2 separate regions of the Homo sapiens genome follow, and region 2 is linked to region 1. Evidence: fine-mapped expression QTL. A gene starts in region 1. The other region holds a variant in brackets. All regions are shown on one strand. Distances are from middle to middle.

Region 1 (5,379 bases):
GCCATTCTCCTGCCTCAGCCTCCCTAGTAGCTGGGACTACAGGCGCCCGCTACCACGCCCGGTTAATTTTTTTGTATTTTTTTAGTAGAGGCGGGGTTTCACTGTGTTAGCCAGGATGGTTTGGATCTCCTGACCTCGTGATCCGCCTGCCTTGGCCTCCCAAAGTGTTGGGATTACAGGAGTGAGCCACCGCGCCCGGCCTGCTAGTTTTTTTTTTTTTTTCTGCAACAGCTTGGAGGTATTTTAATGAATGCATTACTTATGGTTAAAAAAATTTTTTTTTTAAGTACTGGCTGGGCGAGGTGGCTCACACCTGTAATTCCAGCACTTTGGGAGGCCGAGGTGGGCAGATCGCTTGGGTCTAGTAGTTGGAGACCAGCCTGGGCAATGTGGCAAAATCTGGTCTCTACTAAAAATACAAAAAATTAGTCGGGTGTAATGGTGCACACCTGTAGTCCGAGCTACTGTAGTGGTGGTGGGGGAAGAGGGGGTTGAAGCAGGAGGATCACCTGAGCCAGGGAGGTGGAGGCTGCAGGGAGCACTGATCGATCGTGCCACTGCACTCCAGCCTGGGCGACAGAGACCCTGTCTCACCTGTCTCAAAACAAAAACAAAACCCAGGTACTTAAAGATACGCTTATATGATTGGGAAAGGTCTTCAAGGTCGTCTAGTTTAAACCGACCTCTTCCGAAGCTGTAAACTTAATGACTTAATCCCTTTAACTTTGTTAAATTTCATATCACCTGGAGTTTTCTGTCACGCTAAAAGATATTTCCAAACAGGTGTCTGATATCCTAGCAATCAAGTCACATTTAAAGATCAGGAGGAAAACAATGTAACAGCTTTTTAAGTGGCAGCCAGGTTACTCAAAAGTGTGGATCAATTCCTGACAAAACCTGAATTACCATATTAACAAGATCTAAAATCCAGTAGCAGAAATAACAGAGAGCAAGAATAAACTTCTCTAGGTGCCCATTCATCCCCAAATCTTTACTGATTGCTAATCTTTCTGCAGAGCTGAAGTCGATTCCTTTAAAGATCCTTAATATTCCGGTCCTCGCCCCACCTCCCATCAGAGGGGTAGGTCTTAACATTATCTCATTTGCTACAAAGTAGTATTCAGTGGGCTTTTAAAATTTTATGAAGAGCGTTGAAATGCACTATCGAAAAATTTAAAGCTCTATGTATTCAGAAATTGACAGTACTTTAAACAAAACCGAAAAAAAACCTAGATATCCCTTCATCTTCCTTAAAGATGACCTCTCCGCGCTCTCTCCAACAATTTTCCCCATCAACGTTGCCAAGACACTTATCCATTGTATGAAGGACCTAGTTTTACGTTTACTGGTTACCTACCGTTTCCATGACACTGGGCTAGGAGCTAGGACAAATATACAAAAAGGCCTAAAATAAGCATCATATTTCTCTCCGAATTCCCAACACCCGGCAGTGCAGTAAATATTTAACGGGTTACTTTAAGGGATAAACCGTTTGCTATTAAAACCTATGAGGTGAGGGCTGAGGAAGGGAACGGCATTTGATGGGGAGACGAGGTAAGAAGAACGAGGTATTAATATCCGACATCAAAATGGGCTTCTAGGTCTCAACGTCTTAGACCTCACCACCAGAGCCAGTACCAAATTACACCCGTGGCACAATTTTCGGCTCAATACTGTTCTCGGTTTACCCTTACTAGTGCAGCTAAAGTTAACTCTCAACAGCACATTGTAAAAATCATCCAGGCAGGAAAAATCTGTACAAACGTGCACGAACATTTCGACATTGTCACGGGAACATTTAGAACCCAAAACAGGGAGAGTCTTGCCGTCTCTATACTGAGTACAAAGGCCCGAGAAAGCACTCTCATCGGCCCCCCAAAACGCACGTACGAAATCCCTTGACTAAGCTCTTTCACTCCTCGACCCTCTCAGAATTTCCTTCCTCAATCCCCCTTCCTACGCAGGTCTCCGGCTCTCAGCGTGTGGGCCTCTTCAAACCTTCTGACCCTCATAAAGATTAAGGGAGGCATTTCCCACTCATTCTTCTGGTTTCTTCCCTGGGCTCTCCCGCTGCAGGCCACCTCAGGCGCGTCCTCCTCCAACCACCCTTCCCGGCCTACTCCAGGCTTTAGTAGGCCTCAACCCTCAGCCACTCCGCCATTATTATTTACATCGTCGTCTGGGGAGGCTGAACGCTTCACCCCATGCGGGTGAGACTCTCTGGCAGCACTCATCCTTGCGGGGATCCCGACGAAAAATGCCGAACCCTCTCGCCGCTCTTCCCAGCCGCAAAACCAGCAGCTTACAATCCGCCAAGGGCCCAAGCAGCGCCACTACAGAACGCAGAGCCCCTCCGGGCCTTCTCTGCCACAGTCGTCACCGTTGCGGCCCCTCGCCGCCCCGGGGCACTTTGGGAGTTGTAGTTTTCTGATTCATTGCATACTGGCCCGAATAAAAAAGATGTGTCCGTGACTAAAACTACAATTCCCAGGAAGCCCCGAGGCTCAATTCGCGCTGTGTGGCGGGAGTGCCCTCAGAGGCCCCGCCTTCGGCTGGTGGAGGAAGCGTTCCCGCGGATGTGTATGGCGGTGAGCGTTGGCCGAGAGCTTTGTCGCCACAGGAGGAGGCTTAGAGGGGTTTTTGCCTTTCACCGTGCAACGCTGCCCTACTGGCAAATGTATCATCGTAGCTAGGCACCTATGTTTAAATGTAATGTTTGAGGCTGACTGAATCCTCACGAATACCCTCCACCCAGGACAAAAACCTTAACCAAAAATGGCTTCTACCATTTCCACCCTGGTGTTCTCTATTGCGCGCAGGGGATTTCTAGGTGGTCGGTGATGCTGCTTTCTAAATGTTTTCATGAATATTTCGCTGTTTTCCCATACAGAAATGAGTTCAGTATGTTGTTAAATGTTGGCTAATTGGCGGTTGTTGAAAACGGGGATTTAGCTGAGGGAAATCTGTTAAGTTTTCATATGGCTTTGTGTGAGGTGGGAGTGCTCCTCACTGACCTCGCTGTGGATGTCTGGGCACCGTTACAGTAGGGGCCTTCACCAAGCAAAGTCCATCCCTGCCACAAAAGCCTCTATTTTTTTTCTTTTTTAAAAAAAGTAATTATTGAGGTTAAATTCACATATAAAATTAACCATTTTTTAAAAAGTGTACAATCCACTGTCACTTAGTACATTCACAATCGTGTGCAGCTGTCACCTCTGATTCCAAGAAGTTTCACCACTCCAAAAGGAACCCCAATGCCCGTTAGCAATCCCTCCCCATTTCTCGCCCTCTCTCCAGATTCAAGTGATCACTCCTCTACTCAAAAAGCCCTGCATTTAAAGCTATTTATTGTTCAGATACTGAAGACTATCTCCTACTTTATTAAGGTGTCTGAATTTGTAACCAGGTCTGAACTTAACTTTCTGTCAGAATCCTTGTCCTTAATAATTCTGAAGCTTTCTCACCTTGAATACAAATGTGATTTTTTTTTTTTTTAAGCAAAAATTAGGCCTGGCGCCATGGCTCAGGCCTGTAATCCCCAGCATTTTGGGAGGCTGAGGCGGGTGGATCACGAGGTCAGGAGTTCGAGACCAGCCTGATCAACATGGTGAAACCACGTCTCTACTAAAAATACAAAAATTAGCCTGGCATGATGGCACATGCCTCTAATCCCAGCTACTCGGGAGGCTGAGGCAGGAGAATCGCTTGAACCCGGGAGGCGGAGGTTTCAGCGACCCAAGATGGCGCCACTGCACTCCAGCCTGGGTGACAGAACGAGACTCGGTCTCTAAATAAATAAATAAATAAATAATAAGTGGTATGGATAATACATATCTGCTGTTTCAGAACTGAGAGCAGTCTGTGAAACAATGCTTAGCTATTAGCTTTTGAACTCAGCAATTGCTCTAGTTTCACTGCCTGTGTACAAATATTACTTACCTAGATTTCAGATCCTCACTGAACTGTGACCAGTGGAAGGTAGTTTTTAAATTTATGCAGTCATAGATTCAAATTCTCCCTTATTTTGGAAGCAGAAAAATAGCATAATAGTAAGTACTATAATAGAAAAAGAGATGTCAGGGTTACATTTTATAAGTATAACCAAACAAAGAACATCTTAATGGTTCTGTGGTAAGAATAAATCATAAAGGAGGAGGAGAGTAAACCCAAGAGAAAAAAAAGAAACATTGTTTTAGGAAGTGGTTGATTGCTTTTTGCTAGAATTAAAATATTTTCACTACTACATAATTCTACTTAGGTTCTATTAGTTACAATGAAATTACATTTAAGTTACAGAGTTTTGCAGTTTCGACTACAGTTCACCTCTAATGGGTTTGACAAATGGTGATTTAGAACTATTAGCTATATTACCAAAACAAATAAGATGGCTGAATAGGTACTTTAGACTGCTAAAAGATTTCTGAAATAAGAAAGGATTGTCAATAAGAATAGTAGTTACTATATAATTTTAATTTTACTAGTTGGTGAAAGTCCAGAAAACTTTAATGAGCTAGCAACATGTCTTTTATTTCTTCACCAGAATTGTTGGCACCTGGATGGTAAATCTTCAAGTTACTGTGAAACAAGATCACAAACGAAAAAGTAACATAGGAAATACTAAAGACTGGGACATTTTATCAGATTTTACTCAGTTTCATATACAGAAGGCTATAGGTAAGGATGAAATTATACAGTGTAATAGAATGCATATATGCCACAGAAACTCAGTAATGCTCCTCTTTCTTGTATTGTAAAAACAAAGATACACTATCATGAGTGAAACAATGAAATACCTCCTTCAGAATTGGGACTGTTGCATCTGCATTTTTGTTTCTGGCGCAATGCCTGCCACACGGTAGTTAATAAATGTTTCTGAATTAATATAGGAAGGATGAAATTATATAGTACCAGAGTGGTATCTTATATGAGGCCTAGAAACTCAGCAATGTTCTTCTTTCTTGGGTAGTAAAGACAAGGAGAGGAGGCCCTGTCACTGAGAACTTTACATTTTTTTAAATTTTCCCAACATTTAGCATGTAGTGGGCAGTCACAGATGTTTGTCGAGTACGTGCTCTCAACCAGGGATAGTCATGATTGACCATAGTTAAAACTGAAGAGGAAATAAAGGCTTTGAAGATTATGCTGTGTACAAAAAATCTGCTGTTTCACTTGAGACTAAAAAAAAAAATTCCTAGGGCCTTAATTACAGTTACCATTTATTAAATACCCACCATGTACCATATACTTTGCTAGGTGCTTTTTATAGGTGATTTTTACAATTGACCTCAAAGTTTCACAATAATTTGCAAGAAGTAGGGAATTTTATAGGTAATTAAACTTAAGAAAAGTTAAATACTTGCTTAAAATAATGTAGCTAGT
Region 2 (5,379 bases), 31 kb before region 1:
CCAAGATCCACACCTAACTTTGCATGGGTGAGAAATAAATTTTGATATATTCATCCCCTGGGACTTTAGGGTTTATTTTCTACCATAGTATAGTCTAGACTTCCCATACTCTAGATATTATGATTCCTGTATTATAGATGAGAAAACTGAGGCACAGTGGTCCCATGACTAGGAATTAACTGAGTTGAAACTTGAGCTTGTATCCCTCTGACTCCAGGGAGCTTTTAACCACTACAATGGCTGCTGTTACTTTGGAGGAAAAAAAGAGAGAGAGAAGAGCTTCCTGGGGACTTATGGGAAGATTTTGGTGGAGAAAGGGATGATGGTCCTATAGAGTTGGATTCTGGGTCCTTTGAAAAAGAATAATCTCTGGTGAAATCGATGATGTCACAGACAGCCCGAAGAGAAACTTAGGTTTGGGAAAGTGCCTGTGTCAGTGCCTACTGTGTGATGAATGGAAACCCCCTCTGTGGCTGCGATCTGACAGTGAGCATGGCCTGGGGCACGTTGGAGAGGTGTTACTTAGGCACACTTGACCTAGCCACAGGTCTTTCGGCTTTAGGACTCAGAAACCAGATTTGTCAGCATTAAGAGTGGGGCTGTCTCTCAGGGCTACAGTCACACTGACCAGACTTGGGAGACAGATGGAGAAAATTGGATGGGAACCGAACTGCCAGGCAGATTGGCTACTGGTATTCACTGATACTACTACTACCACCCCCAGCCCCACCTGGGGTTGGGATGCGTGTCTTCTTTAGACACGGAAGTCTCAGGACCAGGGCAGTCTTGGAGAGTCCTGGTGTTACTGAGCTATACCAACCTGAGGTACTATCTCCACGACAGGAGACTATGTCCTGCAGACCTGATGCTCATGTTCCTGGACCGGGGCTTCCTCTTTGGAACAAAGGAAGATGGCACTGCCCTTCAGGTGGCTCTTTTCTATGTGGCTATGACTGGCCAGCCCCTCATCCACAGGTTGACACCATGGGAGGGAGACAGCCTAGTGCAGAAGTGACACGCACTGAGCCAGGCTGTCTGGAATCAAATCCGGGTTGCCAGCCCTGTGACTTGGGCAAGTTACTTCCCCTCTCCATGCCTCCATGTCCTTACCTGGAAAATAAGGATATTTTTACCTACCTCAGTAGAACTGTTGTGAGAATTAAATGAGTTAGTCCATAGAAAATGCTAAGATCAGTTCTTGCCCCTATGGGAAGCATCAGAAAAAATATACATATTAGTTATTTACCAGCATTTAAGTTACAGTCATTTAATATGCATCACACTCTTGTTCTTTAATTATTTGTTTGCTAGTTTACTGACTGCTTCCCTCACAAGAACACAAGCTTCATGAAAGCAAGGACACTGTCTTGTTCACTGTATTATCCCTTCTGCCCAGAACAATGTCGGCCACAAAGAGAGCGCTAAGAAATAATTTGTTCAATGAATGGATAAATGAATGAAGTTGAGGCCTGTTGGCCAGGGAGCCCTCTCTCTTTTTGGGATGACTTTGCCTATCTCTGCTCAGCTCTGTTACATGTTTTATACTGTAGCCCCCAGAGAGCATCTCTCACTCTCTTAAGTCCCTTGAGTAGTAGATAAGAGCAGGTACTGTGGAATTCCAATCTACCCTTATTAATTCTGTGACTAATTTAAATGCAGGTAAATGATAACCAATATGTATATTTTTTCTGATCCTTCCCATGGTGCTGAGAACTGTTCTTAGCATTTTCTGTGGACTAACTCATTTAATTTTCACAACAGCTCTACTGAGGTATGCAAACCACTGGACTTCGTAAGCTTCAGTTTCCTCTTCTGAAAAATGAACATAATAGGACCTACCTTCCAGGGTTCATTGTGAGGACTAAAGGAGGTAGTCCTCACACAGTCCCTGGCTTGGGAGCACTCAAGAAGCATTCACTGGGCTGGTTTTGCCCTTCGGGACAGCAGGGCTCCACATGGTTCTTCCACATTTAAAGCCTGTCTCCTTTCCTGACTGGGCAGCATAAACAGGTTTGGGGGCATCTACTATCCCCTGACCCCTGTCTTCTGCCCTCCACCCTCTGCCTTCCATTTCAGACAGTCACCTGCCGTAGGTAGAGTGATGGTCTGGGGCTTTTGAAGTTGGAGTTTGCAAGGCTGGGCCATGCCAGGCTACCCCCCGCGAGCTCTCTAGGAGCAGAGGACAGCCAAGTCCTCGGAGGCCGCCCCTGCAGCCCTGCGGCTGTCCACCCGACAGCAGATCAACCTATGTGCCTCCCTTTGATGTGAGTCCTCAAACTGGAGCCTCGTGCCCTGCTCTGAGAACCCGAGCTTTGAAGTTGGCCTATAAACTGAGCTTTCAGGAAAAAAGTTGTCTGTTGTGCCTCAGAGCACGGCCAGGCCCTGTAAAAGCACACGGAGTGCCATGAACACCTGATGAATAATTCTTTTTGGGCCCAAGAAAGATTCATTCCATTTAAAGGAGAGGAAAATTCCCTTGACCTTTTCATTGAAGTTCTAGGGGTGGGGGTTGGGGGGCACTTAGAGAGGGTTTTTTTGTCTTCTCACTAAAGCCACATGGAGCAGGCAGTTTGTCTCCAAGAGCTGAGCTCCAGTGACTGCTCCAAAGGGCTTCCTATCCCTGACTCCCGACCCCAGGTCTGCTCAGCCAACACCCCCTTCACACTCCCTGCCTCCCACCATGACTGAGGGAGAAGACTGGGTCCTCTCCCAGAAGGAGAGGCCTCTCTCCAGACCAAACCATGTTGGAAATGGCAAGGCTTATGGACTCTACTGCTTTCTTTTCCTTCCAGGGCCTGGCATGGCGAAGGGGTGAGGCAGACATGAATGTGCCTGGATTTCTCACCTGAAGGAGCCCTGAAAACAGGCTGACAGTTGCCAAGTGCTTATTCTGCCAGGCCCTCGGCCTTCTTTTGTGCGTGACTAGATAATAGGATGTAAGTTTGTGTGTAGTTTTCTGAGATCATTCTTTTTTTTTTTTTTTTTT[G/TTG]GAGACGGAGTCTCCCTCTGTCACCCAGGCTGGAGTGGGCAGTGGCATGATCTCAGCTCACTGCAACCTCTGCCTCCCAGGTTCAAGCGATTTTCCTGCTTCAGCCTCCTGAGTAGCTGGGATTACAGGTGCACACCACCATGCCCGGCTAATTTTTGTATTTTTAGTAGAGATGGGGTTTCACCATGTTGGCCAGCGTGGTCTTAAACTCCTGACCCCAGGTGATCTGCCCGCCTTGGCCTCCCAAAGTGCTGGCATTACAGACATGAGCCACTGTGCCCGGCCAAGACCTTTCTTTATGGCAAATGTAACGTACCTATAGAAGGTACACACAAAAGAATATTCAGCTCAGTGAGTGATCAGAAGGCAAACACCTGCGTAACCACTCTTCAGTCGAGAAATAGAAGTGTGCCAGGGTGCTGGCAGCCCTGGTCCTGCCCGTGCCTGCTCAGGAGGCCCTCCCACTCCTGCAACGGATAAGCACTCCACCGACTTTTGTGGTAACTACTTACTTGCTATTCTTTACAGTGTTACCGTCTAAGCAGACATCACAAAATACAGTAGCTTAGTTTGATTTGTTTTCTGAAATTTCTACGAATAGAATAATTTTCTCAGATAGAAATTCCTTTATGTCCAACTTGTTTTCATTAAACATCTTTTATATTTATTTGTGTCGCATATAACTGTTTCACTCATTTTTGCTGCTGTACGTGACAGTATTCCACTGCATGAATATCCAACAATTATTGATCTGTTTTACCTAACAATTATTGATCTGTTTTACTGTTGAAGGACATTTGGGCTTTTACCAATAATGTTATTGCTATTACAATAGCATTACTGTAATATTGCTATTACAAATAATGCTGCTATTAATATTTCTATGCATGTCTGTTGGTGTGCATGCTAAGTGTAGAGGTGCTATGTCAGAGGATAAGCATATCTTCACATGAGGTAGAAAATGCCAAATTGTTTTCCAACATAGTGGTACTAATTTATGCTCCCACCATCACTATATGAGTTGTTGTCCCTCCTCACTGTGGCAGCCAGCTTCTGAAATGGCCCCAAAGATCCTCACCTCTTGGTGTTCACACCCTGTGTAATCTCCTCTTCTTAGGTGTGGGCTGGAGATAGTAACTCACTTCTACTGCATAGGATGTGCCAGAAGGTAATGGATGTCACTTTCAAGATGAGGTTACAAAAAGGCCTCTATCTTGGGCACTCTCCCTTGCATCCTCACCTGCTTACTGCGAGGGAAGCCCTGTAGTGAGCTAGTGGAAGGAGGTCTACCCAGCAAGGAACGGACACCTGACCACAACCAGTGAGGACCTGAGACCTGCCACAATCACCTGAGCGAACTTGCAAGTGAGTTATCCCCCCAGTCAAGTCTTGGGTGACTGCAGTCCTAGCTCACACCTCCATTACAGCTTTTTGGGAGACCCTGAGCCAGAGACACTCAGCTAAGCCCCGATTCCTGACATGTGGAAATGGTGAGATAATAAATGTTTGTTGTTTTAGGCCATCAAGTTTTGAGGTAATTTGTCACACAGTGGTAGACAATATACCCACCAAAACTTTTCATTATTTTAAAATTTTAGCCATTTTGATGAGTATGAAGTAAGCTTAACTAGCATCTTCCTGACCATTAACAGAGTCAAGCAGCTTTTTAAATGTTCCTTGACCACTTGGGTTTCCTTTTTTGTAAAGCCTGTCATGTCTTGACATTTTTCTATTGAGTTGCATATCTTTTTCTTAGTGATTTGTAGGGATTCTAGATTTCTAGGGTAACCGGGGTTACCACCAGAAAACAGAGCCTGAGGCCAGGGCTTGCAGGCAGAACATTTATTTGGGAATGTCCTAGGGAATCACAGTGGAAAGGAAATGAGAGGAAACCAACCGAAGAGGGGCTTCTCCAGAGCTGGTCACTGTTGTGGGAAACTTGGACTCAGTCTCACTGAGACCTTCCTTCTAAGGGGCCATGTAAAATGCACCTCAAAATTATCCACTTGAGAATGAAAGAAGGGAGCACTTATCCTCTAGCTCAGGGCCCCTTTTGACCAAGGGGTCCCCGTGGGGTGTTAAGCCCCTCACTTTTCCAGATCATACACGTGTGAGTGATTCCCACATGAACCCCACACTGGGGCCACTGAGAAGCCCTGGGGCACAGGGTGAAGATGCCATCTTGCAGGAGCGATAGCCATAGCAGAGGAAAAAGTGGCCGAGAGGATGTGAGGTGGAGCATGGGAAGTATCTGCCCCACAGTCTCTTAGGGATTGTATGTAAATATCTTCTCCCCTCTGTGGCTTGCTTTTCCACTCTCTTCATGGTGTCTTGATGAATAGACATTACTAATTTTAAGGTAGTAGAGTTGATAATTTTTCCCTTTCTAGTTT

The links. PIP is the estimated chance that this variant, and not a neighbour inherited with it, causes the effect.
Region 2: its variant is the best candidate, but not a certain one, in a credible set for the expression of C11orf58 in whole blood (INTERVAL, PIP 0.68).

What each region holds. Positions count from the first base shown.
Region 1 is chr11:16,735,634-16,741,012 of GRCh38, reverse strand. It overlaps C11orf58 (chromosome 11 open reading frame 58), which reads right to left and starts at 2,366. Exons shown (of 5, transcript NM_014267.6): 1 at 2,172-2,366. The coding sequence starts at 2,234. It also overlaps a transcript of SOX6 not described here. RefSeq lists an enhancer at 1,863-2,492.
Region 2 is chr11:16,767,056-16,772,434 of GRCh38, reverse strand. No RefSeq gene overlaps it. Among named protein-coding and RNA genes, the nearest start is that of C11orf58, 31 kb to the right of the region's middle. The variant G/TTG (reference allele first, on the strand shown) is at 2,987.